Homo sapiens: one gene and its partners. The protein of the gene in region 3 purifies or fractionates together with the protein of the main gene of each other region. This does not show direct contact. Each region holds a gene or a part of one and is shown on either strand. Other genes may lie near its edges. The genes, in order: RABGAP1L, USP30, RFTN2 and POMT1.

What was found.
Region 1: the proteins of RFTN2 (region 3) and RABGAP1L purify together in Homo sapiens (affinity purification with mass spectrometry; 2 studies listed by BioGRID and IntAct, with this or other methods). This does not show direct contact.
Region 2: the proteins of RFTN2 (region 3) and USP30 purify together in Homo sapiens (affinity purification with mass spectrometry; 2 studies listed by BioGRID and IntAct, with this or other methods). This does not show direct contact.
Region 4: the proteins of RFTN2 (region 3) and POMT1 purify together in Homo sapiens (affinity purification with mass spectrometry; 2 studies listed by BioGRID and IntAct, with this or other methods). This does not show direct contact.

What each region holds. Positions count from the first base shown.
Region 1 is NC_000001.11:174,153,749-174,163,279, forward strand, and holds the start of RABGAP1L (rab GTPase-activating protein 1-like), read left to right. Parts: upstream 1-5,771; 5' UTR 5,772-5,909; intron 5,910-9,531. UniProt on the Homo sapiens protein: GTP-hydrolysis activating protein (GAP) for small GTPase RAB22A, converting active RAB22A-GTP to the inactive form RAB22A-GDP. Plays a role in endocytosis and intracellular protein transport.
Region 2 is NC_000012.12:109,082,959-109,089,503, forward strand, and holds the end of USP30 (ubiquitin carboxyl-terminal hydrolase 30), read left to right. Parts: coding exon 1-104; coding exon of another isoform or gene 105-215; intron 216-1,994; coding exon 1,995-2,115; intron 2,116-2,708; coding exon 2,709-2,973; 3' UTR 2,974-5,065; downstream 5,066-6,545. Other genes in the region: DNA oxidative demethylase ALKBH2, read right to left, coding at 5,248-5,554. UniProt on the Homo sapiens protein: Deubiquitinating enzyme tethered to the mitochondrial outer membrane that acts as a key inhibitor of mitophagy by counteracting the action of parkin (PRKN): hydrolyzes ubiquitin attached by parkin on target proteins, such as RHOT1/MIRO1 and TOMM20, thereby blocking parkin's ability to drive mitophagy.
Region 3 is NC_000002.12:197,566,987-197,575,447, reverse strand, and holds the end of RFTN2 (raftlin-2), read left to right. Parts: intron 1-2,416; exon of another isoform or gene 2,417-3,167; coding exon 3,168-3,440; 3' UTR 3,441-7,224; downstream 7,225-8,461. UniProt on the Homo sapiens protein: Upon bacterial lipopolysaccharide stimulation, mediates clathrin-dependent internalization of TLR4 in dendritic cells, resulting in activation of TICAM1-mediated signaling and subsequent IFNB1 production.
Region 4 is NC_000009.12:131,499,044-131,505,968, reverse strand, and holds the start of POMT1 (protein O-mannosyl-transferase 1), read right to left. Parts: upstream 3,052-6,925; 5' UTR 2,896-3,051; exon of another isoform or gene 2,656-2,895; intron 1,781-2,655; 5' UTR 1,751-1,780; coding exon 1,629-1,750; exon of another isoform or gene 1,320-1,628; intron 1-1,319. UniProt on the Homo sapiens protein: Transfers mannosyl residues to the hydroxyl group of serine or threonine residues. Coexpression of both POMT1 and POMT2 is necessary for enzyme activity, expression of either POMT1 or POMT2 alone is insufficient.

The DNA of each region.
Region 1 (9,531 bases), on a different chromosome or scaffold from region 3:
GAGGGAGAGATTACAAAGGGGCATGATGGATATGTTTACTCTTGATTGTGGTGATGGTTTCACAGTTGCGTACATATGTCAAAACTTGTCAAATTGTACACTTTAAATATGAATAGCTTATTGTATGTCTGTTATATCTCATGAAGATGTTAAAAAGGACAAACAAAATCAACATCCAAGCAAGTTCAACAGATCCTTCTTCTCACTTATATGTATGCAATTTATTTGCTGAAGAAACTTGGTGGTATGTCCTATAGAGTTTCCCACATTCTGGATTTTATTGATTGCAAAAAGGAATCCTTATCTTTTTTTTTTTTGAGACAGGTATTGCTTTGTCACCCCCTTATGGCTCACTGCAGCCTTGACCTCCCAGGTTCAAGCGGTCTTCCTACCTCAACCTCCCAAGTAGCTGGGACCACAGGTGCGTGCCATCACCCCTGGCTAATTTTTAAATTTTTTGTAGAGATGGGGTCTAGCTATGTTTCCCAGGCTGGTCTCAAACTCCTGGGCTCAAGCAATCCTCCTGCCTCGGTCTCCCAAAACGCTGGGATTACAGGCCTGAGCCACCATGCCTGGTCAAGAATTCTTATCTTTTAGAGCTTTATATGATGAAGTATTTATGGGTGATATCCATGTGAGGGGTGGGGAAGGAGATTGGCCACATATTGATAATTGTTCAAGCTGAATGACTGACTCATGAAGGCTCATTATACTCTTCTCTCTACTTTTTATGTGCTTAAACATTTTTTATAAGAAAAAGTTGAAACAAGTCCTGGGGCCTATCTTAGAGGTACTGAATTTCTTGGGGGTTGAGCATAGAGATATGCATTTTTATAAACTCCCAAGGTGATTTTGTTATACACTACAGAGGATCACTGCCCCACATAAAAGAAAAGGACTCCTATGGTGAGATGAATTTCAGACACCTACCATAATGTATGGGAAAAACCATTTTTGGTAGGTGTCCTTTACATTAAGTATCAAATTCTAAAAGTAGTAGAGGCTGGGCATGGTGGCTCATGCCTGTAATCTCAGCACTTTGGGAGGCCACGGTGGGCAGATCACTTGAGGTCAGGAGTTTGAGACCAGCCTGGCCAACACGGTGAAACCCCGTCTGTACTAAAAATACAAAAATTAGCCAGGTGTGGTGGTGGGCACCTATAATCCCAGCTACTTGGGAGGCTGAGGCAGGAGAGTCACTTGAACCCGGGAGGTGGAGGTTGCAGTGAGCCAAGATCGCACCACTGCACTCCAGCCTGGGTGACAGAGTGAGACCCTGTCTCAAAAAATAAAAAATATAAAAAATAAAAGAAATAAAAGTAGTAGGCTAGCTATTCTTCCTCAAGAGACATTTAGGGCCAGGCGCAGTGGCTCATGCCTTTAATCCCTCCCAGCACTTTGGGAGGCTGAGGCGGGTGGATCACCTGAGGTCAGGAGTTCGAGACCAGACTGGCCAATGTGGCGAAACGCTGTCTCTACTAAAAAAATACAAAAATTAGCTGGGCATGGTGGTGCGTGCCTGTAATCCCAGCTACTCCGGAGGCTAAGGCAGGGGAATTGCTTGAACCCGGGAGGCGGAGGTTGCAGTCAGCCGAGATTGCGCCACTGCACTCCAGCCTGGGCAGCAAGAGTGAAACTCTGTCTCAAAAAAATAAAATAAAACAGGCATTTAGATCTCTGCCTGCCTCTTCTACTGCTGAGGAAATTTTCTGCTCCCTATATACATATTTTATTGTGTTCTTAGTCTTAAATGGGCGATTGCAACACAGGTTTGGTTTATCATATAAGCTCATTATGACTTGTCCAGATTACTCTGAATTTCAGCCCTACATAAAACCGTGAAATAAAAAAGGTTTTCTTCTGTATCTCCAGTTTTACCTGTTACATCTTTCGCTCTCTCGGTGATTTCTCCCTTCCTCCAGTAGCCAGTGCCTCTTTTCCAAATCTTCCTGTTAGTAAAAAAAAAAAAGACTAAAAAATCATGTGATAAACTCATTTATATAAGATTAGTGATTCGAGTCATGAAGTGCTCTTCTTGGGCAAAGTTGATTTAAATAGGGCACAGGATTTAAGTCAAAGTGAAAAAAAAAAAAAGTGTAACGATGGGCTTTCAGGCATCAGGTAGCCCAGTCAGGGAAGGATTTTTTGGTGTGGTCAAATTCCTTTCAAGACCCTGTAAAATCTTGCCAGACAGCTTGTTACCTTTCTATCATTGGAAACGTATCCTTGGAAGAGTCATATAATGCAACTAAAGTTATTTGTTCCATAGTATGCATGGAAAGATTTAGCTTTATCTGTAAGAAATACAAAGCCAAACTCGAACCTTCTTAAAAAGCTGTCAAAATCAGGCCGGGCACGGTGGTTCACGCCTGTAATCCTAGCACTTTGGGAGGCCGAGGCGGGTGGATCACCTGAGGTCAGGAGTTTGAGACCAGCTCGGCCAATATGGTGAAACCCCATCTCTACTAAAAATACAAAAATTAGCTGGGCGTGGTGGTGGGCACCTGTAATCCCAGCTTCTCAGGAGGCTGAGACAGGACAATCGCTTGAACCCGGGAGGCAGGGGTTGTAGTGAACCGAGATTGCGCCACTGCACTCCAGTCTGGGCAACAGAGTGAGACTGTTTAAAAAAAAAAAAAAAAGCTGTGAAAATTTATTGTCTCAGAGGAAGGGGTAGGCTTCAAGCTGGGTTTGAGTGCTTCCATCATGTGTCAGCTTCATCCTCAGGCTGGCTTCCTCATGGTAGCAAAGTGGCTGCAGTAACTATTGGACTCACATCTACCCATCACACTAGCCAGAGTAAGAAAAAGAGCACTTTTCATTTCCCAACAAACACAAGATATGGCCTTCCATGTGACTGGCACCAATTTAGACTCATGTCAGTGCCTATCAGTGAATACTGACAGGTCAAGTGAGAATGGGATTAGGCTGATTATCACAATCACTGTCCACACCTGGAGCGGGAGATGGGCCTAATCAGATCCTTGGCTGTCTTGCAATTGCAGAGGGGTGGAAATATATTCTGGGGAATCAATCAATATAATGCTCACTATAAAATCAATATGATATTCTGTACCATTAGATACCAGTTTAAACTCTTACATTATTGTTCAATGTTTAACTTGTTTCTAATTTTTTTTTTCTTTTTTGTGGAGACAGGGTATTGTTATGTTGCCCAGGCTAATCTTGAACTTCTGGGCTCAAGCAATTCTGCCTTGGCCTCTCAAAGTGCTGGGATTACAGGCATGAACCACTGCACCTGGTCTGTTTCCAATTTTTGATATTACATTTTAAACTAGGAGTTGCAGACATAAATGAGAGAAACAACACTGTAAGATACAATAGAGAATGTAGAGACTTTGGCAAAAGAGAGAATGCATGTCCTGCAGCTGATCGTTATCATGTAATAATGTAAGCTCACTGTTACCAAATCTTCCACTTTTTAAAGAGAAGCCCAAAATGCATGTATAATCTTCTGGTTTTTAACTTTGGATATGTGTTTTTTTAAGCACCATGTATGCCAAACAAAACATGTTTGTGGGTTTGATTTGTACCTGGGGCACCAGTTTGTCATGTTATGAATCATGCTGGAGTATTTTATAACACCATCTCTCAAAGTGAGAGTTTCAGTCCTTTCATGGACCAGGGCTGCTAGGATACGCTTAATGCAAATGAAGCCACAGTGGAAAGAGAAGTGAGCAGCACATACCACATGAAGAATGCTTTGTTATTAATTTTTTATTCCTTTTAGTTTCTCGACTAAAAGCCTGAAGATCTGTTAATAATTTTTTGGCATGTGCTTAGAATTGTTTTTCTGGTGGTAAGGATGAGTTTGCATCAGATCACCTTAATTGTCTTTTATCTAGGTTCTCTCATGACTTGTCTCTTATCTATGTTGTACTGTGAGGAAAAGTTCAGTTTTAAAGAATGACCCCTGTTGATGAGAGGTGTTACATGTGGCCATGGGACAGGATTTTTCTTTTCCTTATAGCAAGTTGGCACATGAAGATAGCATGCTCCACTTAAATAGAAGAATTAACTCGCAGTGGCCAGTGGTGTCCACTATTGCTTTCAAAGACATATGGAACTGAATTTGGGGAACACTAAACTTGTTTTGGACTTGCCATTTTTTTTTTAAATTCTTTTTTAGCTAAGTTACCTATTGAATGCCCATAATTACCACATCCATTGTCCTTTTTTGTCAAAAAGCTTCACTCCAGTTAGAAGATACCTGAAGGCAGAAACTGCGGCTTTGTCAACTGTTGATTTCCTCATGGCGCGCAGTGTAAATTTACTAGTACTTTATTTAGTAGAGGCTTAGTACTTACTGGTTGGCAGATTTATTAATAGTTCCTGTACATCTCAGGAAATCAACAGATGATTTATGTTATTCTAACCCTAACTTTATTAAATATAATAAAAACTTTCAGCATTTATTGTCAGGCCCAGGGCTAGGTAGGCTCCTGAGATACAGAAGTTAATAAGGGAAGCAGCCCAGAAGGTAGGGGAAACAAAAAAATAGTTACAACACTCTTGATATGTCTCAGCATCTATAGACATTAACATCAGGAAAAGCGGGGGTGTGGGGGGAAGGAATTTGTCAGGGAGGGCCCTTTGGACAAATGTCACGTTTCTCAGAGTAGCTTTTAAATATGGGTGGGAAAATGAGGGCAGGGGAATTGAAGTGGGATAGAAGGGAGATATTTAAACTAAAGTCATTCTATGGCTGCAATCACTGGACACTATATTCACTTATCCATGCAATCACATTCATTGAGTGCTTCCTATGAGTTAGGCAGGGTGCACAGTGTAAGATACAAATGAATGATACAGGTTCACAGCGGTTGTCTAGTGGGATAAAATGCTGCACAGGGCAACCTGGATAAGCCTGACATGTTAGGTGCCACAAAACTACAGAACAAAGTGCTAAGGAGATTCGGAAAATTTACAGGTCATTTCTGGTTGCAGGATCTAGAAGAAGGATGTCCACAATTCAAGGATCAGTACAATCTTCGTAGCGAAAAAGCGTTGGTTTATTCTACCTCTACCTAGTTTGTACCTCAACATCTTTTACCCCAAAGGATAAAAAGGTGCAAATGAGGGCACATTTTCTTCATATAATACGTAATGGTGCTTACTTATTGCTTTCCTGTTCATTCCCCGCAGGTGATTTCCCTCTTCAGTCTCCCCCGAGTCTCACAGAAGGAACTAACAAGGGAGCGCTTCACAAGCACACAGACACCTTCAAACAGGCGCAGAAGAGTACTTGGTGAAAAAGTATTCTTTCAGGTGACTTTCCTTAAGATTACTGAGCATTAAGAATGAAAATATGTAAACCAGGTTTACGAGCAAGAAAATAATCTCTCCACATTCAGAGTTAATCTTCCGAACTCAGCAACTGCCAGTAGAACGCACCCCGGTCAGGGCGGGCTCGCGGGCGCGGTCCCACCCCCAGGCCCCTCCGCCGCGGAGGTTCTCCAGCGCCGCCCGTACTCCCGCCTTTCGCGCGTCCCTGCTCTAACAGCTCTGGTTCTGTCAGGACCTCACTCCTCCGCTCCCGGCGCAACCGCGGCCACGCAGCGACGTGCACGCGCGTGTGCGCCGCCGCCGCCCGGCAGAGTGGGCGCCTCCGACATCAGGAGCGCGCACGCCGCGCAGAGGGGCCTGGACGAGCGCGCTTCCGACCCGCCGCCACCGCCTCCTCCCCTCCTTCTCGGCCCGCCCCCTCCCTCGCCTCTTCCTGCCAGGCGGCCCTTCTCCCCTCCCCTCTCAGTTCCCTCCGCCCTCCTCGGGCTCCAGCGGTGGCGGAGCGAACGGGACCGGCCCGGCTTCAGAGCGCGAGGTGGAGGGTGGAACGCGGGCGCCTGAAGGAGTTGTTGTCTCGGCAGCGCCCGCGGAGACGTGAAGAGGTGAGGCGAGGACGGCCTCCTAGGGACACGAGGGCGGCCCGGCGGCCCGGATCCGCGGGCCGAGGCTGCCTGGGTGTGTTGGCGTCGGGCTGAGCCTGGGGAGGGTCGAGATGGGGCCCCAGCCGAGGACTGGGATGCGGGAGGACCGCGGTAAGGAGGGTAGGGGGCGGGTTCAGGACTGTCGGCCGCCTCCCGGACACCGCAGTTCTCCCAGGTGGCCGCTCCTCGCGGATAGGGCGGGCGGGGTCGGCGCCCTTACCTGGGGGTGGGGTAGTGGCTTTGGCGGCCGCCTCCTCCAGCTGTGCCCTCCTGACATTGCTGCCTCGGCGGCTGCCGCCCGCTGCTACGCTGTGGCTGCTGCTGGATTCGCAGTCCCAGCCGCCCTGCGTCCGGTGGGCGAGTGGTTAGGGTATTTTCTTACCCACACGCAGGCTTCTGTACTCGACCATTTCTCTCCCTCGCCCTTCCTCTTCCTCCGCCGAGCACTTTGCTCGGCTCCTGCTGTTGATGCTTGTGGTTTTGCAGTTTGGGATGGGATGCGTTCCGGGCAGATCCCTACCTGTAGGGAATGCCCCGCTTCAAAGTTGACCTCCTGAGCCATGACAAACACCTCCCCCCAACCCCCACCCACCTTGTGAGTGCTCAGTGTCCTGATAACTGAGTCAAAGTTTCTGAGACTGGGCTAGTACTTTGCACTGGTCGCCAACGGTACAGGGCTGGGCAGTGCGTCAGCATGTGGAAAGGGGCCACCGGCTAGCGGGAGGTGGCCGGGTGCATGGGAGCTGAACTGACGGGTTTCAGATACTAGGCAGTGTGTCCAGGTCCTTGGATCTCTCAGATAGGGTTATATTAGAATATGTACCAAAACTTGGGTGGTCACTTGCAAAATTGGTTTCATGCAAGTAAACTGAAATGCCAGCCTTATTACACTAATGGTAAGGAGAACTTTTGCTTGCCTGACAGATTTCAGCGCAGTTTGGAAAATGATTTTAAGGCCTTTATTTTTGGCACTGGAGGGGTTTAGGGATTTTTAATACATTTAAATTTCCTCGTGCATAGTGGGAGGTAAGTAGTTGCTTGTTAAAATTCTGAAAACACAGTTTCATGAAAACCTTCTGACTTTTCTTACAGTAGTGTTTATATTTGGCATCTTCCGTAGAATATCCATTAGTTATGATGTCAGAAGATACGGATGTGAAGTTTGCTTTTTGTGATCACATTGGAAGTGGATTTTGTTCATGGAAAATACTGGTTCACAAGCTCCTAGTACTAGAAAACTGGCCTGTGATTCATTTTCTCAGTAGAGCGTCCCTTATGAAATTGACAATGAGATTTCTAAGGAGAAAGACTAGTTGAACTTTATGTATACATTATCATCAAATTGTATTAAATGTACACCTGCCTGAGGGGTTAGCTCTAGACTTTGAGTTAGACTGGTGTCTATACTAAATCAGTTCAATAAATGCGCTGATATTATGTATTATTCATTTGGAGAGAAGTAGATAAAGCAGGGCAGAGTTTATATTTTAACATATTATGTAGCCTACATTTGCTCTGATGTGTATTATTATTATTATTATTATTATTATTATTATTATTTTTGAGACGAAGTTTCGCTCTTGATGCCCAGGCTGGAGTGCAACAGCGCGATCTCGGCTCACCACAACCTCCGCCTCCCGGGTTCAAGCGATTCTCCTGCCTCAGCTTTTTGTGTAGCTGGGACTACAGGCATGCGCCGCCACGCCTGGCTAATTTTGTATTTTTAGTACAGACTGGGTTTCTCCATGTTGGTCAGGCTGGTGGAACTGCTGACCTCAGGTGATCTGCCCGCCTCAGCCTCCCAAAGTGCTGGGATTACAGGCGTTAGCCACAGCGCCCGGCCTCTGATGTGTACTAGTAAGTCATATGGGGAGAAGTAGATGAAATAGGGTAGAGCTTATATGTGAACATATTATATAACCTACATTGTCCTCTAGAAAGCTGGAAACAAGTTAGTAAGTCTCAGTACTATTGGGGCATATGGTGAATATACAAACCAACCTAAAAAAGTGTGACTGTAAATAGATGAAGTTTGTTTGTTTCTTTTAAAGAGACAAGGTCTCGCTCTGGCGCCCAGGCTGGAGTGCAGTGGCTCAGTCCTAGCTCACTGCAGCCACGAAGTTCTGGTCTCAAGAGATCCTCCCACCTCAGCCTCCTGAGTAGCTGGGACCACAGGCACATGCCACCAAACCTGGCTAATTTTTTGTTTTATTTTTGTAGAGTCAAGGGTCTCACCATGTTGCTCAGGCTAGTCTCCAACTCCTGGCCTCAGGCAGTCCTTGCGCCTCAGCCTCTCGAAGTGCTGGGATTACAGGCCTGAGCCAACGGTGCTTGTCCCATTTTTTTTTTTTTTCACCTGAGTTATTTGATGGGAATTTCTATATATTACAGTTGCGATGTTCTGAGAATTTTTGTTTCTTTGATAATTGTTTCATGATTTAGATGTTTTCTTTTTACGCTGGTAGTTATGATTTTTTTTTCCTTTGAATGAAAGAATTTTATTAGGCATGTGAAACAGGAGTTTTCATGTGATCAGCTCTCCAGTTCTAAATTTGTGACTTTTAAAAAACTTGAATTTTTTTCTTTGCCTTAACCCAAACTTGAATTTGCTCAGCCATTGTATATTTATTTGAACTCTCAGATGATACAGCATTGAAGCAGAAAGTCCTTTTATCCATGCTTTTGGAGTAATCAAAAGAAGGAATTCTGTTGTGCCAAGTAAAAATATGTGTGGGAGATAGCTAGGCTTCAAGAGATTGACTTTGAAGAGAGTAGTGGCTAAGTAGCAAAAATTTCCTATATTGAAGGTGTAGAAGTGGGCCTGCATTCCAACCTACCATTGTCTTCAAGTGGGGTATGGATCATTATGACTGGTTAGAGGGGGTTTGGAGAATGAAGTTGTTGCTGTAAGCCTATGGGATTCCCAGGCACAGAGCTTGCTTATGTCTTAATTTTAATGAGTTCTATATTTTTATAACTCTTGACTTATATAAATGGGTCAGCCGTTGAGTCTGAGGATGACCAGCAGCCCAAGGCTATTCCAGGTGCTGGTATTTCTTTTTTTTTTTTTTTCTCTTTCTGTTTTTTTTTTTTTTTTTTTTTTTTTTAATTATACTTTAAGTTTTAGGGTACATGTGCACATTGTGCAGGTTAGTTACATATGTATACATGTGCCATGCTGGGAATTGAACAATGAGATCACATGGACACAGGAAGGGGAATATCACACTCTGGGGACTGTGGTGGGGAGGGGGGAGGGGGGAGGGATAGCATTGGGAGATATACCTAATGCTAGATGATGAGTTAGTGGGTGCAGCGCACCAGGTGCTGGTATTTCAAAGATGGCTCAGGGGTTTCTTGTGGAGATGATCTGATGAGCATTTTGCCATTACAAACAGTGGAGGCGGAGAAAGTACGGACTTGAGCCTGAGTTATGGTAAAACATACTCATTTTTAAAGGAGAGTTTTAATGCTGATATTATAGAGAAAGACATTGTTTGACTCCTAGACTTTCAGAACGGGAAATAATTTTGACTTTATAGTCAGTATTTGAATTGGGTATAAGTATGTGAACATCAGTGGA
Region 2 (6,545 bases), on a different chromosome or scaffold from region 3:
GTACCACCTCCTTGGACATAAACCTAGTCAACACAACCCTAAACTGAACAAGAACCCAGGGCCTACACTGGAGCTGCAGGATGGGCCGGGAGCCCCCACACCAGGTGTGTGCGCGCGAGGAGCCGATGCAGCAGGAATTTTCAGCACAGAGAAAAGCAGTTTGGCATCACCACCTTCTGGGTCCCTTATGACAGGAGCACAAGGCTTGTACAATGGTGCTTAAACTCTTGAGAACAGCAGGATTGGGGGTGGAAGAGGGAAGATTTCTTAGAAGAGGTTAAAATTATGTAGCAGTGAGATGTATCGTTTTTGAAACCATATTACAGATGAAAAAGTACAGAGAGAAACGCTTAAAATTGCAGCTTTGCCTTCTAATTTTTCCGCTAAATGATATAATCATTGGCTCACATCATTCCAGTGAATTTCTTTTTTCGGTCATGTCATTTCCTGTCAGTAGAGGAAATGTAGGGAGGACATGTCCTGGCTAAAGATCACTGAGCCTCTTCTGGGGGTTGAAATGCCTTCTGTACTGAATTATGTATCTGATTCCATTACTGCCCTCAGCTGAGGTCTCATTTAAGCCGGGTAGCTATTATCGCCGGTCTTACTGATAAGAACATGGAGGCTCCACGGGGTTGAATGATTGGTCCAAGGGCAAACACCACACAGGAGAACTGGCCCTAGAATGCCATGTTGGGCCATTTTCTAAAGGTGTCTCATGTGACACACTGAGTTCTTTAGAGTTAGACATGAGGAAAACCCACTCACTTGAAGGGCTCACAGCCTGAACTCACCACCTGTCTGCTGCCCCCAGTTAGGTCAGGATTGTCTCACACCCCATACTTTCCTATTTAGGGTCCCTTACTCCTTTTGTTCTTTTTATGACCACAGTTGCATGGCCCGACACCTCATCATGTCAGGGAGATTGTGTTTTCCTCTTTCTCATCAAGTCACTAGATTAACATCGAAAAGAGATGAGGTAGGGGACAGACTCTGGTTCAGTCCTTGGCCCTGGTTTTAAATCAAAGACCTCTGCACCCCAGCTTCCCCATCTCCTGGGCTGGGGTGCAGGTTTACTAATGTTGAGAGCATGCTGGCTGTGGTTAAAGATGCCAGCAGTAGGGCCACTCGTGGTGGCTCACACCTGCAATCCCAGCACTTTGGGAGATTGAGGTGGGAGGATTGCCTGAACCCAGATGTTTGAGGCTGCAGTGAGCTGTGATCACACCACTGTGCTCCAGCCTGGGCAACAGAGCAAGATCCTGTCTAAAACACACACAAAAAATGTCATCAGGAAACTACTTGGTACATAACAGCCCCCAAAAATGACACTTGAAAGGAAAAGACATGTAAATATGGCCTTAATTATGTTGTCTACCCATAAACATGTATGAATGCTATTACACGTTGGTATTCCTTAGAAGCTGACAGAATTAAAGCAAATAGAATGCTTAGATCAGTGGTTCTCAACTTGGAGGAGTTTTGCCTCCCAAGGGACATTGGGCAGTGTCTGGTAACATTTTTGGTTATCACTACTGGGGGAGGGGTGCTACTGGTGTCTAGTGGGTAGAGGCCAGGGATGCTGTTCAACATCCTCTAATGCACAGGACAGCCCCCGCAACAAAGAATGATCCAGCCAAAACCATCATGGTGCTGCTGTTGAGAAACCTTGGTTTAGGTCAAAAGCCAGTAAATTAGCTACTGATTAACTTTGATACATGGCATTAGCAAACAGGGCTAGGAAGCTCAAAGATCCCAGGCTAGCCGTAAAGCTGGAGCTAGATACACTTTTCCTATTTGGGATTAAGACAGATTATCCCTATTTGAGATTAAGGATAAAGGGCAGATTATTTTATGAATCTATATAATACCAAATGAAATAGATTTTTTTCTTTGTAGCATTATGGGGAGTTAACTTTCAAGGTAATCAAAACCAGGTTTTGTTTACAGAGCCACTGCTAATTTTCATTGACTCGGGCCTTTTTCTCTTGCAGTTCTGAATCAGCCAGGGGCCCCCAAAACACAGATTTTTATGAATGGCGCCTGCTCCCCATCTTTATTGCCAACGCTGTCAGCGCCGATGCCCTTCCCTCTCCCAGTTGTTCCCGACTACAGGTGAGCCACCCTTTACAAGCCCCATCTTAGAGCTACCACTGCTCTTAGCTTCTAAAATTAGCTTTTCACAGAAATGAATTAAGGAAAATATAGATGTTTATTTTTCATTTTAAGGTGAAGTTTCACGATTACACATTCCTATTTATTTTTGTCCAAAATGGAAATAACTTTTAAATTAAAAATTTTTAAAGTACATAAAATTTACATATGCATATGTATGTGTGTATATATGTGTGTATGTATAAAATATAAAGAAAATTTAAAATTTCTTGGGATACCATCTAGAGATAGCCAATTAAACACTTAGGGTCATGCACTCTATAAAGTTGTACATCACACATACATATAGTGTACATAAACACATACACTCATTGATACAAACATCCACATATACACAATATACATATACTCATAGAATGTACATCTTGCCATGCCAGTAAATACAGATCTGTATTTTAATAGTTGTGTAGCATTTGGTGGTATGGACTTACCATTGTATTCATCCCCTATTTAACATTAGCATTCTTTTGTTTTTGCCTATAAAGTCTTTTTGTTAAAATTGTAAACCCCTGACATGTGTTCGTATCATTCAGCTCCTCCACATACCTCTTCCGGCTGATGGCAGTTGTCGTCCACCATGGAGACATGCACTCTGGACACTTTGTCACTTACCGACGGTCCCCACCTTCTGCCAGGAACCCTCTCTCAACTAGCAATCAGTGGCTGTGGGTCTCCGATGACACTGTCCGCAAGGCCAGCCTGCAGGAGGTCCTGTCCTCCAGCGCCTACCTGCTGTTCTACGAGCGCGTCCTTTCCAGGATGCAGCACCAGAGCCAGGAGTGCAAGTCTGAAGAATGACTGTGCCCTCCTGCAAGGCTAGAGCTGATGGCACTGTCTGCACTGTCCAGGAAAAAAGTAAAACTGTACTGTTGCGTGTGCAAGCGGCCCCACTAGAGCCTTCCAGCCTTCTGGTGTGTTCTAAGAGCAGGCTCCACCTGGGAGCCAGCCCCAGTTCACACCAAACCAGGCTCCCTGAACAGTCCTGTTCATGTGTGTAGGTGGTTCTGTTGTGTTAAGAAAGCATTCATTATGTCCGGAGTGTCTTTTTACTCATCTGATACAGGTAATTAAAAGAACTCAGATTCTTGAAGCCACCGTTTTCATATTGTAATGTTAGGTGTTCTCAGAGGGGAGGTACCTTTGTCTAATCAACGTTTCCACTTAGATCTTTTATTTTTAATAAGCAGGCCCATAAAAATTGTTGACAAGAATTAATGAAATTATTAAAGGCAACAATTTAGAAGAAAAAGTGCCTTTCACTTTCGATTGCTTTTGTAGCACGTCCATTGTGAAATATTCCTTCCAGGCTACTCAAAGGATAGCAAGAGAACAGGTAAATGATGCCTAAAGAACACCTTCCTTTTTCTATGCCTTTTCTAATCTTTCAATTCTTTCTATGGAGTAAAGGCTCATCTGCCAAATCTGCCCCCTGGGGAAACTCTTTCACTACTTTGTCAGTTATAAGTGAAGAGCTTACTTGTTGCTTTTATCTTTTGTATATTGGACTGAGATGTAATTACACTGTATTATAAAACTCTGTGAATAGCCAGAACTGAGCTGGATCTTTGCAACACCTGATTCCTCTGCTCTGTGGAAAACTTTTTCTTACACAAGGATCCACTGTGGACGGTTACTTTCATCTGTTTATTTATTGCCCATGCAGAGCTCTTAAGGTTTACAGGTGGGAGCTTGGGGCTGTATAAAAAAATAATCCCTGCCCTGAGTTGACACCTGGCTTAGGAAGGAAGGGCTGACTATGGGGCTGCAGTCTCTCTGAACCTCAGTTTCCTCATTTGTGAAGTGAAGGGTTAGATTTGATGACCACCAAAGTTCAGCCCTTTTCACGAAAAGGAGAAAGCAGCTTTTGACTTTTTAAAAAACATATAACTACAGCTGGCATCTAGTATTGTCATGTTGCTCTAGGTCCATATTCTGAATTTATTCATTTCCAATAGCCTAATACAAAAAGTATATATTGAGCACTTTCTTCCCTTTTCAGGTAAGTCTCTGAATGCAGCCCAGGGCCAAAGGAATTTTGATGACACAGTAGTACCTATGTTTTAAGCTATATTTTTAATTTAGAAAAATGGATACCAAATTCAAACCGACTCATCAGAGGTAAGATTTGGAATCAGACCTTTCCAAAAGGTCATCTGAGGTAAGGCTAAGACCGCACTTCCTCTGCTGGGGGTGAGCTGGCAGACACACCAAACAGTGCCTTGGCAGCAGCTCACAGTGCAGGAAGCCCAGGTGATCACTCTTCTGCTGGGCCCAGGCTGCACCCTGAGGACTCAGTAACTCACTCTCAACAGAATATTCTGTGCAGGCTCTCCAGGCTCTGGGCGTCAGGGTGCAAGGGGCAGCTTGAACTGTACGGTCCGTCCTGCACTCACCCGATGCAGACCTTGACTTTGATGTTGAAATGAACACACTTGTTTTACCCAAGTCTGGTGGAACAAATGCCCAATCATGTGACCTTAAAGTGTACTGCAAAGCTGTAGCTTTAAGTAATTGCTGTTCTGCCACTGCTTACTCTGAAATCTACCATCAAAGAAAGATAGAGAAAAGGGGCTGAGCCTTGGAATATATGGTTATAAGCAGATCTTTCTTTGGTCAGAGACCAGGGTTTGAGCCAAGGCTGTAAATGTGAACAATAGCTGTGCAAAGCCTTTTAACCTGACTTCTTCATTTTGTAAATTATTATGCATTAAGTAGCAGCCCAATAATCTGATTTCTAGTTTTATTTTCAAAGTAAGTAGCTTCTTTTGGGAAAAACCTAAGTTAAACTAGTAGTTTTGCCATAATAACTGCTGATTTATGTATTTGCTAAAGGTACTTTTGTATCTGCTGTGTATTATAGCAATAAAATAATCATTTTGTTAGAAAAAAATCACCTGGTGTTCTTTTGTAATACACTGATCTGTTACAAACATCATCTTTCTGAATTCTGCATTGTTACATAACAAGCCCTACGCTTTAAACCTTTCTGTGTTCCCTGTTGGTAAGGGAAATGCCAGCTCCCTCTTAGAGTCGAGAGGGAAAGAGAAAAGAGAAAAACTGTTAAAAATGTTTTTATTTTTTAGTAAGCAAAATTTTACGAAAAGTCAGATTCACCCGTGGAGCCAGAACCTTCTTTCTCACGGGAAGACTGTGGTACCAGTGCGTGTTGGTCGGGTGGTTCATCATTAGTAAGCTCCCGTGGGCCAGCGGCAGCCTGACCACCGCCACCCTCCTGGAGGGGCTTTTCCCACGGGAATCCTTATGCCGGAAGACAAAGTCTCTGCAGGCACCGAAGGAGACAGAGGCAATGGGGCTCCCAGGGGCCAGTTCTCTTTCATCATCTCGGTGCTCCCCGATGTGGTCACAGCCATCTTTATACCTGCAATGAGAAAACAAACACAGTGCATAAAAACAACCCTCTCCTGAAACTCACCAGCACCGCCAGCCCTCGTTTTCCTCACAGTGTGAAACAGCACTCTGCATGGCTGTACCTGCCGTTGTTTCTGCGAGGGCTTGAGGTCCACAGTGGGCTCTAAGATAAGCCAACGCTGAAGAGGTCTGTTGACGTATTTGTTCATGTGACTTATTTATTATTATTTTTGAGAGGGTCTCGCTCTGTCACCCAGGCTGAAGTGCAGTGGCACAATCATAGCTCACTGCAGCCTCGGCCTCCTGGGCTCAAGTGATTCTCCCACTTCAGCCTCCCAAGTAGCTGGGACTATAGGTATGCACCACCCCACCTAGCTAATTTCTTTTCTTTTGCAGAAACAGTTTCACCATGTTACCCAGGCTGGTCTCAAACTCGGGCTCAAGCAATTCACTCTCCTTGGCCTCCCAAAGTGTTGGGATTACAGGCATGAGTCACCACGTCCGGCCAGTTCATGTGCTTTAAAACTGAAGACACCCAAAGCCAAAATCACGTCTTACTGTAGTTCCCCTGGCCAGTCTATGTAAACCTTTATCACATGATTTTGCCCTGCACTCAAAGGCCATACTCTGCATAGCCCGGCCCCTGCCCACTGCTGAGCTCATGCCATCCCCTTCTTTCCCTCATTCACTGCTTTCCGGCCATCCTGCAGCATTTTTGCTTCACAGACACTCCAGAGTCCCTCTGCTCTCCCTCCAGATGTCTGTGGCTGGCACTCTCCATTTAGTTATCAGCTCAAACGCACTGCCTCAGCCCTCCTCTAACCACCCCATCTGAAGTGACCTTCCCTTAAACCCACCCAGGGTTCTCCACCAGGGTGATTCTGCCCCAGGGGACAGGTATTGGGGGGTGGGGGACACTACTTGCAATCTAGTGGATGGAGGCCAGGGATCTGCTCAACATCCTGCAAGGCACAGGTCAGCCCCAACAACAACGAATGACT
Region 3 (8,461 bases):
AGGCAGAAGCAGTTTGCAGCAGGACAAGGAAAGGGTCCACTTCACCCTTGAAGACATTCTAGACACTCGCTCAAAATAAACTCAGTCTGAATTATCCATGTAAACTAGTCTGTTCTCACGTTGCTAATAAAGACATACCCAAGACTGGGTAATTTTTAAAGGAAAGATGTTTAATTGACTCACAGTTCCACATGGTTAGGGAGGCCTCACAACCATGGCGGAAGGTGAATGAGGAGCAAAGTCATGTCTTACATGGCGGCAGGCAAGACAGCACATGCAGGGGAACACCCCTTTATAAAACCATCAGATCTAATGAGACTTATTCACTATTACAAGAACAGCATGGGAAAGACCCACCCCCATGATTCAATTACCTCCCACTGGGTCACTCCCACAACACTTGGGAATTATGGGAGCTACAATTCAAGATGAGATTTGGGTGAGGACACAGCCAAACTATATCATTCCACCCCAGCTCCTCCCAAATCTCATGTCCTCACATTTCAAAACCAATCATGCCTACCTAACAGTTCCCCAAAGTTGTTTTTTGTTTGTTTGTTTGTTTGTTTGTTTGTTTTTGAGATGGAGTCTTTCTCTTGTTGCCCAGGCTAGAGTGCATTGGTGTGATCTTGGCTCACTGCAACCTCCACCTCCCAGATTCAAGTGATCCTCCTGCTTCAGCCTCCCAAGTAGCTGGGATTACAGGCGTGTGCCACCACACTCTGATAATTTTTGTATTTTTAGTAGAGATGAGGTTTCACCATGTTGGTCAGGCTGGTCTCAAACTCCTGACCTCAAGTGTTCCTCCTGTCTCAGCCTCCCAAAGTGCTGGGATTACAGGTGTAAGCCACTGCACCCGGCCAAAAGTCTTAACTAATTTCAGCATTAACTCAAAAGTCCACAGTCCAAAGTCTCATCTGAGACAAGGCAAGTCCCTTCTGCCTATGACCCTGTAAAATCAAAAGCAGGTTAGTTACTTCCTAGATACAATGGGGGTACAGGCATTGGGTAAATACATCTATTCCAAGTGGGAGAAACTGGCCAAAATGATGGGGTTACAGGCCCCATACAAGTCCAAAATCAAGTGGGGCAATCAAATCTTAAAGCTCTAAAATTATCTCTTTTGACTCCCTAACATCCAGGTCACACTGATGCAAGAGATGGGTTCCCATGGCCTTGGGTAGCTTTGCCCCTGTGGCTTTGCAGGGTACAGCCCCCCTCCTGGCTGCTTTCATAGGCTGGCATTGAGTGTCTGCAGCTTTTCCAGGTGCACAGTGCAAGCTGTCAGTGGATCTACCATTCTGGGGTCTGCAAGACGGTGGCCCTCTTCTCACAGCTCCACTAGGCAGTGTCCCAGTAGGGACTCCATGTGGGAGTTTCCACCCCACAATTCCCTTCCACACTGCCCTAGCAAGGTTCTCCATTAGGGCTCCATCCCTGCAGCACACCTCTACCTGGACATCCAGGTGTTTCCTTACATCCTCTGAAATCTAGGCAGAGGTTCCCAAACCCCATTTCCTGACTTCTGTGTACCCACAGGCCCAAAACAACATGTGAGCCACCAAGGCTTGGGGCTTGCACCCTCTGAAGAAATAGCCTGAGCTCTACGTTGGCCCCATATAGCCATGGCTGGGATGCAGGGCAGCAAGTCCCAAAATTGCACAAAGCAGCAAGGCCCTAGGTCCGGCCCACAAAAACATTTTTTCCTCCTAGGCCTCCAGGCTTGTGATGGGAGGGGCTGCCATGAAATGCCCTGGAGACATTTTCTCCATTGCCTTGGCAATTAACATTTGGCTCCTTGTTACTTATGCAAATTTCTGCAGCCAGCTTAAATTTCTTCTCAGAAAATTGGTTTTTCTTTTCTATGGTATCATCAGTCTGCAAATGTAAACATAAGTTCCAATTCCAAACCATATCTTTGTGAATACCTAAAACTGAATGTTTTTAACAGTACCCAAATCACCTATTTAATGCTTTGCTGCTTAGAAATTTTTTCTGCCAGATGCCCTAAATCATCTCTCTCAAGTTCAAAGTTCCACATATCTTGAGGGCAAGGGCAAAATGCCACCAGTCTCTTTGCTAAAACATAGCAAGAGACACCTTTGCTCCAGTTCCCAACAAGTTCCTCATCTCCATCTGAAATCATCTCAACCTGGACTTCACTGTCCATATCACTATAAGCATTTCGATCAAAGCCATTCAATAAGTCTCTAGGAAGTTCCAAAGTTTCCCACATTTTCCTGTCCTCTTCTGAGCCCTTCAAACTGTTCCAACCTCTGCATGCTACCCAGTTCCAAAGTCGCTTCTACATTTTTGGGTATTTTTATAGCACCCCCCACCCCCGCCACTCTACTAGTACCAATTTACTGTATTAGTCTGTTCTCATCCTGCTAATAAAGACATACCCGAGACTGTGTAGTTTACAAAGGAAAGAGGTTTAATTGACTCACAGTTCCACGTAGGGAGGCCTCACAGTCATGGCAGAAGGCAAATGAGGAGCAAAGTCATGTCTCACATGGTGGCAGGCAAGAGAGAGCATGTGCAAGGGAACTCCCCTTTATAAAACCATCAGATCTCATGATACTTATTCATGGGATAAGACCCACCCCCATGATTTGACTACCTCCCACTGGGCCCCTCCCACAACACATGGGAAATATGGGAGTTACAATTCAAGATGAGATTTGGGTGGGGACACAGCCAAACCATATCACTGTGACTCTTCTGTGCAGCCTGTGTCTACATGACATGGGTGTAAGGTGGCCATCAAAGCACCTTTTCTGCTGTATAGATCTGAACTAACACTAAGAAGAAAAACATATTAGTATTTATACCTTGCTTTGTTCTCCCAAAGTATGATTTCAACAAATTTCCTTCCTTAGAGATGTCACTGAGGGCCGAGATGTGTACATAACATACCCATCAACAAGAATGATGTGCCAGGAACCTACAAAGAGTTACAAAACAGGGAGAAGGGAGTTCATTTGTATTTGGGTGGAGAGGGGAATGTGGAGGTAGCTCTGAGCTGGTCGTTGAAGATGAGCAGGATTTTGAAGAGCTGGGGAAAAGGACATTCCTGGAGGCAGAAAGGCAGCATGTGCTAGACCAGAGGGACAGGAAACACCCATCTTTTTAACTCTCCTGGTCACCAATGTCTTGTGTTTCAGAAGAAAGCCAGCCGCCACATAAAAGGTGAAGACAAGAATAAAGCCACTAGTAGAAGCATCGGATTAGACACAACCTCGTCACAACCTGCAGAGAGCAGACACCTGCCTGAGGAGTGCCGCCTTTCTCCCTCCCGGGAATGCTGGACAAAGGAGGGAAGGCTGGCACAGCACAACAGCTTCTCTGGGTTCAGCAGCAGTGACAACGTCCTCCGGGAATTAGACGACGGACAGTTTGATCAGGAAGATGGAGTGACTCAGGTCACTTGTATGTGAGCCATGAGGTGAAGCAAAGGAAGGCCCTGTAAATAATTGTTAAAATCATTGCCAACTGACCTTATTGTATTACTTTCTCTGCATTTATGTAATATTTTTGAATTTTTCCAGACCCAGCCTTTCCTCTAATCTATGTAAACTTTGGCACAACCTCCCAGACAAGGAAGAATAACCAACATATTTATACATTTAGAATCATGTTTACACTTCTCTCAACTAAAACATCTGGTTAAACAGATGTTCCATTCGGTTATTACACAATAATCTATTTCAGCTTCTCATGAATGTACAAAGTAGACTTTCTTACAATTCCTGGTAAGGAGACTGAATATCTCAATCAGTATTTTACCCAATTAGAGAGAGTTCTCAGGAAGTTACAGTCTTATTTAAGCTGAAAAATAACCTCTCTCTCTCTTTTTTTTTCTCTCTCTCTCATACACACACACAGCTAATTAGTGCAAATAAATATCTATTTCCCAAATATAATAATTAATCCACATTTTGTCTTTAACTATAGCATGTATATACAAAGCAAGCCCCTATGTGTTAAAATATTTTTTGAAAAAAATCTTTTTTATGTATCTTTGCTTTTAAAGGGTCATGTCACCAACCCTGTACTGATTCATTGTACATAAATGTTGTTGCTCCTAAAAGCCTAAAAATGCAGACAGCAAAGCAGCATCTCTTAAAATTCAATATGAAAAGAACCCATAATCTCAATACATAAATACCTTAGTAGAGAGTAAGATTTAATTTTTTTTTATTTTAAAGTCCAAATACTATGAAGAGGAAAAATATCAACTTCAATTTGAAACTGAAGTCTTTTACATCTGTCTAGATTTGAATTCTGCTTTTATTTTGACTTGTTAAATCCTGAAGAATGTTGAAACCTAGAATTTTCAATCTGGCAGGAGTAGAAAGATGCTCATAGCACACGCGATATGTATGATAACATATTTTGTTTCATCTTGCTTTTCTTTCCCCTTCTAATAGAGGTGGCTTTGCCTTGACCCAGCCTTTAACAATCTTTAAAATTCTACAAAATAAAGGATTTTCATTTATCTATGAAAGGCTTACTTTGAAAGATGGAACCTCCAAGTGAATTACAACTTATTCTATCATTGATGAATTCAGCCTATTATATATTTTTATTAACATTGATGTTGACATTGTAAGATCATTTTAATAATAAAACATCATTTTTATTGTGTTATTGTTTTATTGAACACAAATATTCATATAATATGTTTGGTTTGGGGGTTTTTTGTGGCTTTTTTTGAGACGGAGTCTCACTCTGTCACCCAGGCTGGAATGCAGTGGCACAGTCGCAGCTCACTGCAACCTCCACCTCCTGGCTTCAAGCGATTCTCCTGCCTCAGCCTCCAGATTAGCTGGAACTACAGCCAGTGTGCGCCACCACGCCCAGCTAATTTTTGTATTTTTAGTAGAGATGGGGTTTCACCATGTTGGCCAGGATGGTCTCGATCTCTTGACCTCATGATCTGCCTGCCTTGTCCTCCCAAAATGCTGGGATTACAGGCGTGAGCCACCATGCCTGGCCTTCATATAATATGTTTTATACATATAACAGATATGTATTACATGTTATCAATTATATAGTGTATCTAAACTAAGTCAATCTCCATTAATTGCTGATAAAATTAACAGGAATTATTCCACTTTTATCATCCAGAAGTACAGTATAAAGGAATTTAAGAATATTCTTCTCAGTCTTATTCTATAGCAATAGCTGTCAACAATATTTGCAGAAATGGTTTTTGTTTTGACTTTTAGATGGACTTGAGTTCCATAATCAAGAGTTAGTGGATTTTTGGTAGAAACAATCACTGCTTCAGGAGTCCATAAAACGTAATGAAGTTAGGAAGCACAAAGAACAAATCAGAAAGATCTGTTTTTCCCAATTCCAGGGTCTACAAGAGGTAGAGACTTCTTTATCATTCAGCCCACATACATAGGGGATTGGAAGTAGTAAATTAAAAACAGAGATAGGAATTTATATTTGACTAAGAAAAAACTCAGAAATATAGCAATAACTTTTTTTTTTTTTTTTTTTTTTTGAGACAGAGCCTCACTCTGTCACCCAGGCTGCAATCTCGGCTTACTGCAACCTCCGCCTCCCAGGTTCAAGTGACTCTCCTGCCTCAGCCTCCTGAGTAGCAGGGATTACAGGCCTGCACCACCATGCCTGGCTAAGTTTTGTAATTTTAGTAGAGATGGGGTTTCACCATGTTGGCCAGGCTGGTCTCGAACTCCTGGCCTCAAGCAATCCACCCACCTTGGCCTCCCAATGTGCTGGGATTACAGGTGTGAGCCACTGCACCCAGCCAAGCAATCGCTTTTTTAAAAAATTTGTGTAAGCATACTTTCTCAGTTTATTTTTTTCTCCCCTCCCGTTTATTTTTAATCTGAGTTATTTCTTATTAAAATAACTTTTATTAAAATAAACTTACTAGTCTGTCATATCCTCAAAACTTGTTTTAGAAGCATTTGCTCCAACAATTACCCTTAAGTTATGTGATGAATTTGTATGATAGCGAATAATTTATGATCAAGTGGTTCTAGAGTATTTTAAATGTGTGTAAATAGCTATGAGCCTATTATTTTAAAAAAAGAAAAAAACTTGGGCTCTCTATGCCTAAGGAGTTAAATATGTCTAATTTTATTATCTGCCAGTTGTATATTCAGTTCTTTTTATAACACTATGATTTCCTTAGGGGCTCTGGCATGTGAATTTTTAAAACCTGTAAGTTATAATGAAAGGTATCAAGATCCCAGATGTTGGGTGAAGATCTGCCATTCCCCTTGGTGTAGTATCTATGGCATTTTCATCTTCGTTTTCAATACCAAGTGTTAATTCCATCCCCTTTGGATTGTATACCACCTTGTTATCTTTTATGGACACATTTAACACCTACCTAATCACCAGGGAAATCAGCTCTATCAGTGTCATTACAATTCATTTCAGTAAAAGAGAAAAGGAAAGGTCACCCTCTTTGAGAGATTCTAGGGCTTTCAGGAGGAGGAGAAGCAGGAGACAGAGCTACAGTCTATTCAAATCACAACTATCTCCAAATCATTTGTGTTATCAGGAGCAGGTGTTTATATATTTGAATATAAATGTAACAGATGCATTTTCATTTCTTTCATTCTGGAGTGCCAGAGGAGCTGTCCCGTTTTCCCGCCCTTGCCTGTTATTGATTCCTCACCACCATTCCTTCTTGGCTGGAAGGACTGTGGCCCTTTCCCTCCCCATATGGCTAAAGAGGATTTCTTTCTCTTAACTCTTCAGAGCCCCAGAGTAGTACTGTATGGAAAGTGTAAATTCAGATGGAGAATCAAATGAAGTGAAATTGCTAACAATGGGGATAGTATATAACTAAGAACACATTATATAAAAATGTACTAGTGGATACATAGAAAAACTAGCTAAATGTTACTCATCAGAACTTGTAACATATCAATTTAAATAACATTTGCTGGTAATCTATCATCCCTTGAGAATGAATTTTATTTGTGTAATAGTGCAAAGTTTGCAGAACCAGGTCTGTCAGATATTTAAGTTCTGAGATGGTGTTTGAGGCAGAAAATTAGGCAAAACTGTAAAATGATGAGCCTCAGTTTTGATGAGGTTCATAAAGTTTTGGTGAAGACGACTGCAAAAGAAATGGGTTCTAAACATGTTTTGAGCATTCAAATTTTTGTATGTAAAAATACCAAGTAATTAAATCAATGGAATAAATGAATCATTTATGTGTAAGATAAATGTATAAGTATCAAGGTGAGTTTGTTGTTTGTTTGTTTGTTTTTGTTTGTTTGTTTGTTTGAGACAGAGTCACACCCTGTTGCCCAGGCTGGAGTGCAGTGGCATGATCTCGGCTCACTGCAGCCTCTGCCTCCTGGGTTCAAGAAAAATTCTCCCACCTCAGCCTCCCGAGTAGCTGGGACTACAGGTGCACACCACCACACCCAGCTAATTTTTCTATTTTTAGTCAAGTAGGGTTTCACCATGTTGGCCAGGCTGGTCTTGAACTCCTGGCCTCAAGTGATCCACCCACCTCGACCTCCCAAAGTGCTGGGATTACAGGTGTGGGTCACCACGCCCAGCCAAGGTGAGTTTTTGAAGGTTTATGTAAGCCACATTATTACCTGTAAGCAACAGAACTTAACTTGGCTTATTTAGCAATAAAGGAGTTTTTTGTTGTTTTTGTTTTTTGTGGGTTTTTGGTTTTTGTTATTTTTTGTTTTTTTGAGACAGTCTCACTCTGTCACCTAGGCTGGAGTGCAGTGGTGTTATCATAGCTCATTGCAGTATCAATCATCCTGGGCTCAAGCGATCCTCAGCCTCCCAAGTAGCTGGGACTACAGGCATATGCTACCACACCCAGCTAATTTTTGTATTTTTTATAGAGACAGGGTTTCACCATGTTGCCCAGGCTGGTCTTGAACTCCTGGGCTCAAGCAATCCCTCCCGCCTTGGCCTCCCAAAGTGCTGGGATTACAGGCATGAACCACCGAACCCAGCCCAATAAAGGAGTTTATTTCAAAAGATATCTGGAGGCCAGGCACAGTCACTCACACCTGTAATCTCAGCACTTTGGAAGGCTGAGGAGGAAGGATCACTTGAGGCCAGGAGTTCCAGACTTTTGTTCTACAAAAAATACAAAAATTAGCTGGGCATGGTGGCTGGTGCCTATGGTCCCAGCTACTCAGGAGGCTGAGGTGGGAGAATCACTTGAGCCCAGGAGGTGGAAGTTGCAGGGAGCCAAGACTGCACCACTGCACTCCAGCCTGGGCAACACAGTGAGACCCTGTGCCACCACCCACCCACCTCCAAAAAAATATCCGGAATTGGACTTCATCAAAATTTTAAATTTCCGGCCAGGCACAGTGGCTCACGCCTGTAATCTCAGCACTTTGGGAGGCCAAGGCGGGTGGATCACTTGAGGCCAGGAGTTCGAGACCAGTGTGGCCAACATTGCAAAACCCCATCTCTATTTTTT
Region 4 (6,925 bases), on a different chromosome or scaffold from region 3:
ATCCCCAAATATTAAGATGCATACAGCATCACCCACCCACAGAGACATGGGGAATTCACCAAGCACAGCTGGCACTCAGCATGCCTGCCCATACAGATTCTGTCTCTCCCTTGTGTTTGATTTAGGTGGATACTATGAGCCAACCTGCTGAAAGACCTCCTGGGACGCAAGGCTAATCCTGCTTACCCACCTACCCAACCCCCCCACCCCCGCCCCCACCAGCAGCACATGTCTGTGGCTAGCGATGACCCAATGAAACGGCTGCAAGTATGAAAGGAAAACGTGGGAATCAACTGCAATAACATGTTTTCAATCAGGGAGAGGTGAAGATAACCAAGAAACTGCTGTCAATTTCTCAGGCATGATAATGCAACTGTGGTTATGTGATTTTTGTTTTTAAGAATCCTCAGCCAGGCACGGTGGCTCACGCCTGTAATCCCAGCACTTTGGGAGGCCAAGGTAGGTGGATCACAAGGTCAGGAGTTCAAGATCAGCTTGGCCAACATGGTGAAACCCCTTCTCTACTAAAAATACAAAAATGAGCCAGGCGTGGTGGCAGGTGCCTGTAATCCCAGGTACTCGGGAGGCTGAAGTAGGAGAATCACGATCGCACCATTGCACTACAGCCTGGGCGACAGAGTAAAACTATGTCTCCAAAAAAAAAAAAAAAATCCTCATCTTTTACAGATATACCGCTGAATTATCTATGAATACTAGGATTTGCTGCAAAGTAAAAACCACTGCAGGGAGGGGCCTGGCTGTGAACTGATAAGGTGAAGCTGGGTAATGAAAATACTGGTGTGTGTGGGGGGGTCATTCATTATACTTGTCTCCCTGCTTTTGTATATGTTTGACGTTTTCCATAATAAAAAGTTAAACAAAAAAGAACATGCAGCAGGGCGGAGTGGCTCACGCCTGTAATCCTAACACTTTGGGAGACCCAGGTGGGTGGATCATGAGGTCAGGAGTTCAATACCAGCCTGGCCAAGATGGTGAAATCCCGTCTCTACTAAAAATACAAAAATTAGCTGGGTGTGGTGGCGGGCACCTGTAATCTCAGCTACTCGGGAGGCTGAGGCAGAGAATTGCTTGAACCCAGGAGGCAGAGGTTGCAGTGAGCCGAGATGGCACCACTGCACTCCAACCTGGGCGACACAGCAAGACTCCGTCTCAAAAACACACACACACACACACACACACACACACACACACATACACACATTAATCAGTTAATAAAGAGCCCTTCAATAATAACAGCAATCACTTCCCATTATGACAAAAACACATTCTAAAAAGTGCTCTCAACAGTGAAGACTTACTTCCAAATCCATTAATCCTCTGCCGTCCAGACTTTAAAACTGTTACTTAAGGCTGGCAACCAGATTTTCCTCTACTGCACCCCTTTAATGGGCCAAATTTCACCTGTTACAGACTCAGAAGGCAAGACCTAAAAGGTGTACTCTGCTGGGGCTGTCCTGGGGACAGACTGGTCTCTCCTCTCACTGCCAAAAACACCTATCACCAAGAAGCCAGGATTTCACTCTCCCATTTATGCTATTCAGTAAGGGCGCCTCCTGTCACAAAGTACAATTCTAGATTCACCCTGGGAATGGAGTCATTTAGCTTACACCACAGCCCGCGGGTAGGTGAGTCGCCACAGCCGGCTCAGTAACCCCATCCCAGTCAGGGCCACAAGGCTCAAGTTGATGTCAGCCGTCACCACTACAGGGCGCTTCAAAAATCCCCACATCTTGTAGAAAAGCGGGCTCAGGCAGACGCCCTAGAAAAGAAGGGAGGAGCCGTGGTCCATGAGGGCTCACGAGAGGCTACAGAAGGGATCCCCAGCCACCCGGCTCCCGGACACACGAGGAGAACCACAGCACAGCCGGGCTGCTGAGAAAGACCGAAGTTCCTGGAGCCTTGGTTCAGGTAGACATGTGGGGTGAGGGGCACTAGCAGTGAACTCGGGTGGGAATTCAGGGGATCTCAGGACTGGACATTCACTCCTTTCAACAACTCATTCCACAAAACCTGCCGAGCACGTCTTGGGCGCGAGAACACTGCTAAGGAACGCCAGGGTTTCTCCCCTCCCTCCCCGACGACCAGAAGCCCACAGTGCGGCCACAGCTACCTGACCCTGGGCAGCTCCTGGGTGCCATCTCAGCTGCTTACAGCCCAGGGACCCCAACCTGGCCGAGCCTCGGGGCCTCCTCATCTCTCCTCAAGGATGCATCTGCCCCCAGTGCCTCCCTGCCTTCTATCCCAGCGGCACATCATCCCCGGGTGCTCCCTTTCTCGCCTGGAGGGTGCATTTGCACCCTGCGCCCCCACGTTCTCCTCCAGGCTTCATCTTCCCTTGAGCTCCGCTTCTCTTGAGGCTGCATCAGGCCTGGGACACCCTGTCTCACACCAAAGCCGCATCTGGCCGTTGGCGCCCCGCTGGTCTCCTCAGGCCCCATCTACCCTGGACGCGCCCTTCCCTCCCTGAGCTGCATCTGCCTTGAGCGCCTTCGTCCCAAAAGGTCCCATCTGTCCTGGGAGTGCCTCCTCTCCCCTTGCAGACCGCATCTCCCTGGCCGGCCCTTCTTCCCCACAGGCCGCACCTGTCCCGTCCACCAACTCCCGAGGCTGCGTCGGCCCCAGCTCCGTCCTCACCCTGAGACTGCACCCGCAGCACGCCCTTCCTCCCTAGGGCTGCACGCGCCACGGAGTTCTTACTTCGGGGCTCGGCCGCCCGAACGCCGCATCTGCCCGGGCCCGAACCCCGCCCCCAGCTCCGGAAAGACGGGGACGCCCCCGGCCCCAGCCCGTCCGCAAGCCAGGGACCCGCGTCCGGCACTGACGGACTCCCCCAAGTCCGGGCTGGGCTCTCGTCCCCGGTGTCCCCAAATGTACCCGCGTTTCTCCGAGTCCACACAGAGCCGCGCCCGGCTCCCGGCAACGCCTCGGAACCGTCCGACTGGGCCGACGGTTGGGGGTGAGGCCGCTCGGCACTCCGCACCACCCACCGCCCTGCTCAACGTTCGATTCACCGAGCCTGCGGGGCCAGACGGGCAGCAGCGCGCGTGCGCACTGGGAGAGGGTGACGCGCGTGCGCAGCGGGCGAGGGCGCCGGTCCCGGAGGAGAGGCAGGTGTGAAACGCGGCGACCTCCCCTCTCTCGGGTGCTACTGTTTTGTGTGCCAGGATTTCTGTGTACTCTAAGCAGACGTGCAGATTTTAAAAAGCGCAGTGGGCTCCCACCCATCTTCTGCTCCTTGCTTTTTCACTCCATCTGGCGTGAAGATCTTAATTCTGCGTCTGCACAACGGCGTTCTGCCGGGCGCGCCAGTTTGCTCCTAGTTTTTTTCTTTTCTTTTCTTTTCTTTTTTTTTGAGACGGAGTTTCGCTCTTGTTGCCCAGGCTGGAGTGCAATGGCGCGATCTCGGCTCACCGCAACCTCCGCTTCCCGGGTTCAAGCGATTCTCCTGCCTCAGCCTCCCGAGTAGCTGAGATTGAAGGCGCACGCCACCACGCCCGGTTAATTTTTGTATTTGTAGTAGAGACAGGGTTTCACCATGTTGGCCAGGCTGGTCTCGAACTCCTGACCTGAAGTGATCCGCCCACCTCGGCCTCCCAAAGTGCTGGGATTACAGGCGTGAGCCACTGCGTCCGACCTTAATTTTTTTTTTAAGACACGGGGTCTCGCTCTGTCGCCCAGGCTGGAGTACAGTGGCAGGACCACGGCTTGCTGCAGCCTCGACCTCTCTGCCCGAAGCGATCCTCCCTCCTCGGCCTCCAGAGCAGCTGAGACCACAGGCACGTGCCCCCACGCCCGCGGGCGCTCCTAGTTTCCTTGCCGAAAAACATCGATGCCACGATCCTGCTTGCACATACATCTAGCGGTGAAGTGGCTGAGGGTAAGGGCATTTAAAACGGACCTAGGGCCGGGGGCGGTGGCTCACGCCTGTAACCCCAGCACTTTGGGTGGCCGAGGTGGGAGGATCCGTGAGCCCGCTTGAGTCCAGGAGAGCCTGGGCAACACAGCGAGACCCCGTCTCTACAAAAAAATACAAAAATTAGCGGGGCCCCTTGGCGTCTGCCTGCAGTCCCAGCTACAAGGGAGGCTGAGGCAGGAGATCACTTGGGGCAGAGAGGTCGAGGCTGCAGTGAGCCTTGGTCTCACCACTGCACTCCAGCCTGGACTACAAAGTGAGACCGTCTCAAAACAAAAAACAAAACCAAAAAAACCTGGACATCAGTGGGGGCTGCATGACCATCAGAGGCTCCAGTGGGGGCATCTCCCCTAAACTCCGTGGCAGAAGACTGGAGGCTTCTTCCTCCATTCCCAGGGCTCCTCCTCATCCATCAGCCTCTCCAGCCCCCTCTGCTGAGGGTCAAGAGCCTTCCCAAAGGCCTGCTTTGGAGCAGACATGGTACTTTTGGTTGGGTCAATGCACCCCTTCCCATGTTTTCCCTGAACAGTCGGCACCCAGAGCAGGGTAACTGACAGCAACGCAACCAGGCTGATGGATCACTCTTCTCAGCCTCGCTCCTTCTTGATCTCCTGGTCTATTTGTATGTTAATCTATACAGACCAAAAGGGCACACTGCAGGTTTAATAACCTTCATTATGGTTCTTGGCTGCCTGCAAGACTTTTTTTCCATGTTGGGCAACATAGCATTAGATGACACCAGTTAGAATTTCGTGGTTACTTCTTTATGGCTTACCCTTGAGGGGTTATGTGACTCACCCAAGATCCCACAGAGAGGCAAGGAGCTGGGGCTCACCTGGGTTTGTGGCCAGAGCCTGCAGGCAACTGTATTTACAGTGGGCAGGGAGGGTTCCCTGGGCCCCAGGAGGGAGTGGGGCTGGGCTGTTAAGCTTTGGTTCATGCCATGCTAACAGTGGTGGTGCCTCAGGACTTACAGCCTCCATCTTGCAAGCCCCCAACCTTAGGACTAGCCTCTTTCAGGGCTGGTCTCCGTTTGAGATTTTGTGAGCCACCTGTCCCTAGGGAGCAGTAAATCAGGGCAGTGAGTGTGGCTAGTTAAAGCTGAGATGCCCATGGCCAGGTCCCCAACTCTCTTCCATAGTCAAAAGGCTTAGAAGGAAGTTGAGGGACTGGGGTTCCTCATGGAAACAGCGTTTTATTTCTTGGGGGTAATTTATAAGTTTTCTTAGCTGGTTCTAGGCACTAAGCTAAAAGCTACTGGTGACTTTGAATCCACACTACGCCATGAGGTCGATACCATTACAATCTGTGTTTTATGATTAAGGAGACTGACTCAGGTGGTGAAACGTCTTTCCCCAGGTCAGTGAGGCAATGGCAAAACCGAGAACTGCTGCCTCAGCCCATTCTTACCTTTTACCCTTCGCTACCCCAGGCCTGGCTTGCTCCCTCCCCACCCCAAAGCACAGCATAATCCTCCTCCACTTCCTGCAAAAGCACCGCTAGAAGTGACAACACAACACGCCACATCAAATGCTTACCTCCTCTGACCAGCTCGTTTCTCACGGCAAGTGACGGGGCCACAGGCAGGCACTGTGCACAACCAGATGCCATCCGTGGGAAGAGGGTGGAGTGCTTGATGCTGCCGCATTTGGAAGATGCTTCTTAGCCACGGGTTTCAATCCCTTCTCTACCCACACAGCTTCTGTTAAGGCATTTCAGCCGTGCCACTCCTAATTTCCGTGTGAACTCTGTAAAATTAGAATTCTTTGATCTGTAGGTCTCTCTGGTCAAATGACCAAGAAACGAGGGATGTACAACCTGAGAAAGCACGTTCAGCTTTATCTTTTTAAACTTTTTTTATTTAAATAAGGAGAATTCTTTCATATGGAAAGAGCTAGTACAATCACATATTTGAAAGGAGAAACAATAGGTACTGAACCGGAGGGAAAGGGCGAGGGTGAGTGTGCCAGCACCGGCCTGGTGAATCCACGATTCGATTTCCCATCCAAGGTAAGTTTCCCAAAATACCGTATAAACAAGCTGCACATTACACCTCTAGCCATCGTCTGCCCTTTCAAATATCTGGTCTACATGGAAAGACAAAGAGGAAAGGCCAAAACATAAACAAAAGGAAACAAAAACAAAACACAACCCTCTCAGGAACCAAACAAAACCCCCAAATCCTTTTTTACTACACAAGGCATGAGGTCAAAAGCTTGAGTACAGTGTCCCCTTTAGATCACGGGAGAAAGGCGTCCACACAGAGCCTTAGCAGGAATTTCCACTCTGAGGCTTCAGAACATGCTGAAGATGGGGCTCTGAGGGTGCCACTACCATCCTGGAGGCCACCAAGTGGGGTGGAAACAGTGAAGAGCAGGTCTCACATGCCCGAAGACCACCAGCCAACTACACATTGGTGGCCCTGGTGGAGCATGGCTGGGCGACAGCGTCCATCCCCAACACTGAGCCACTCCTGTCCTGGATGACTTCCTGCTTAGGTCCGTCACATTTCAGAAGAGAGCTGGCTTTCTGGAAGCCTACGTTTCCCATTCATCACAGAACACGACAGAGTGCACACATCCTGGTATCCTTGGTCTTCAAAGGCCATTTCCAGCAGACCCTCTAACCCAGGCTTGTTCTGCAGGAAGTGAAAAGGGACAAATGAAGATTTGAGGGGCAGCCTGCAGCTACTTGGCACAGGGGAACCAAATGGCAAGGGAGAAGGCTCCACCAGAGCTGCCATGCTGCCGTAGCAGGCCAGACCACAGCATGGCTGTGCACCTGTGTGTGCTCAGCTTCCAGAAGCTGTCACTGACCATCGCGAAGGCAGATCCAGAAGATAGGAGGGTGACAGCACGGCTGGAGAGCACTGATGTCAACGTTTAACAAGGTTCCCCAGTGTCCCTAGAAGTGGCTGGAAGGACCACAGCTTTGGAACTGAACTGATTTTCTTGAATGTGAAATAAAGTCATCTTTTGTTTTCCCCCTTAA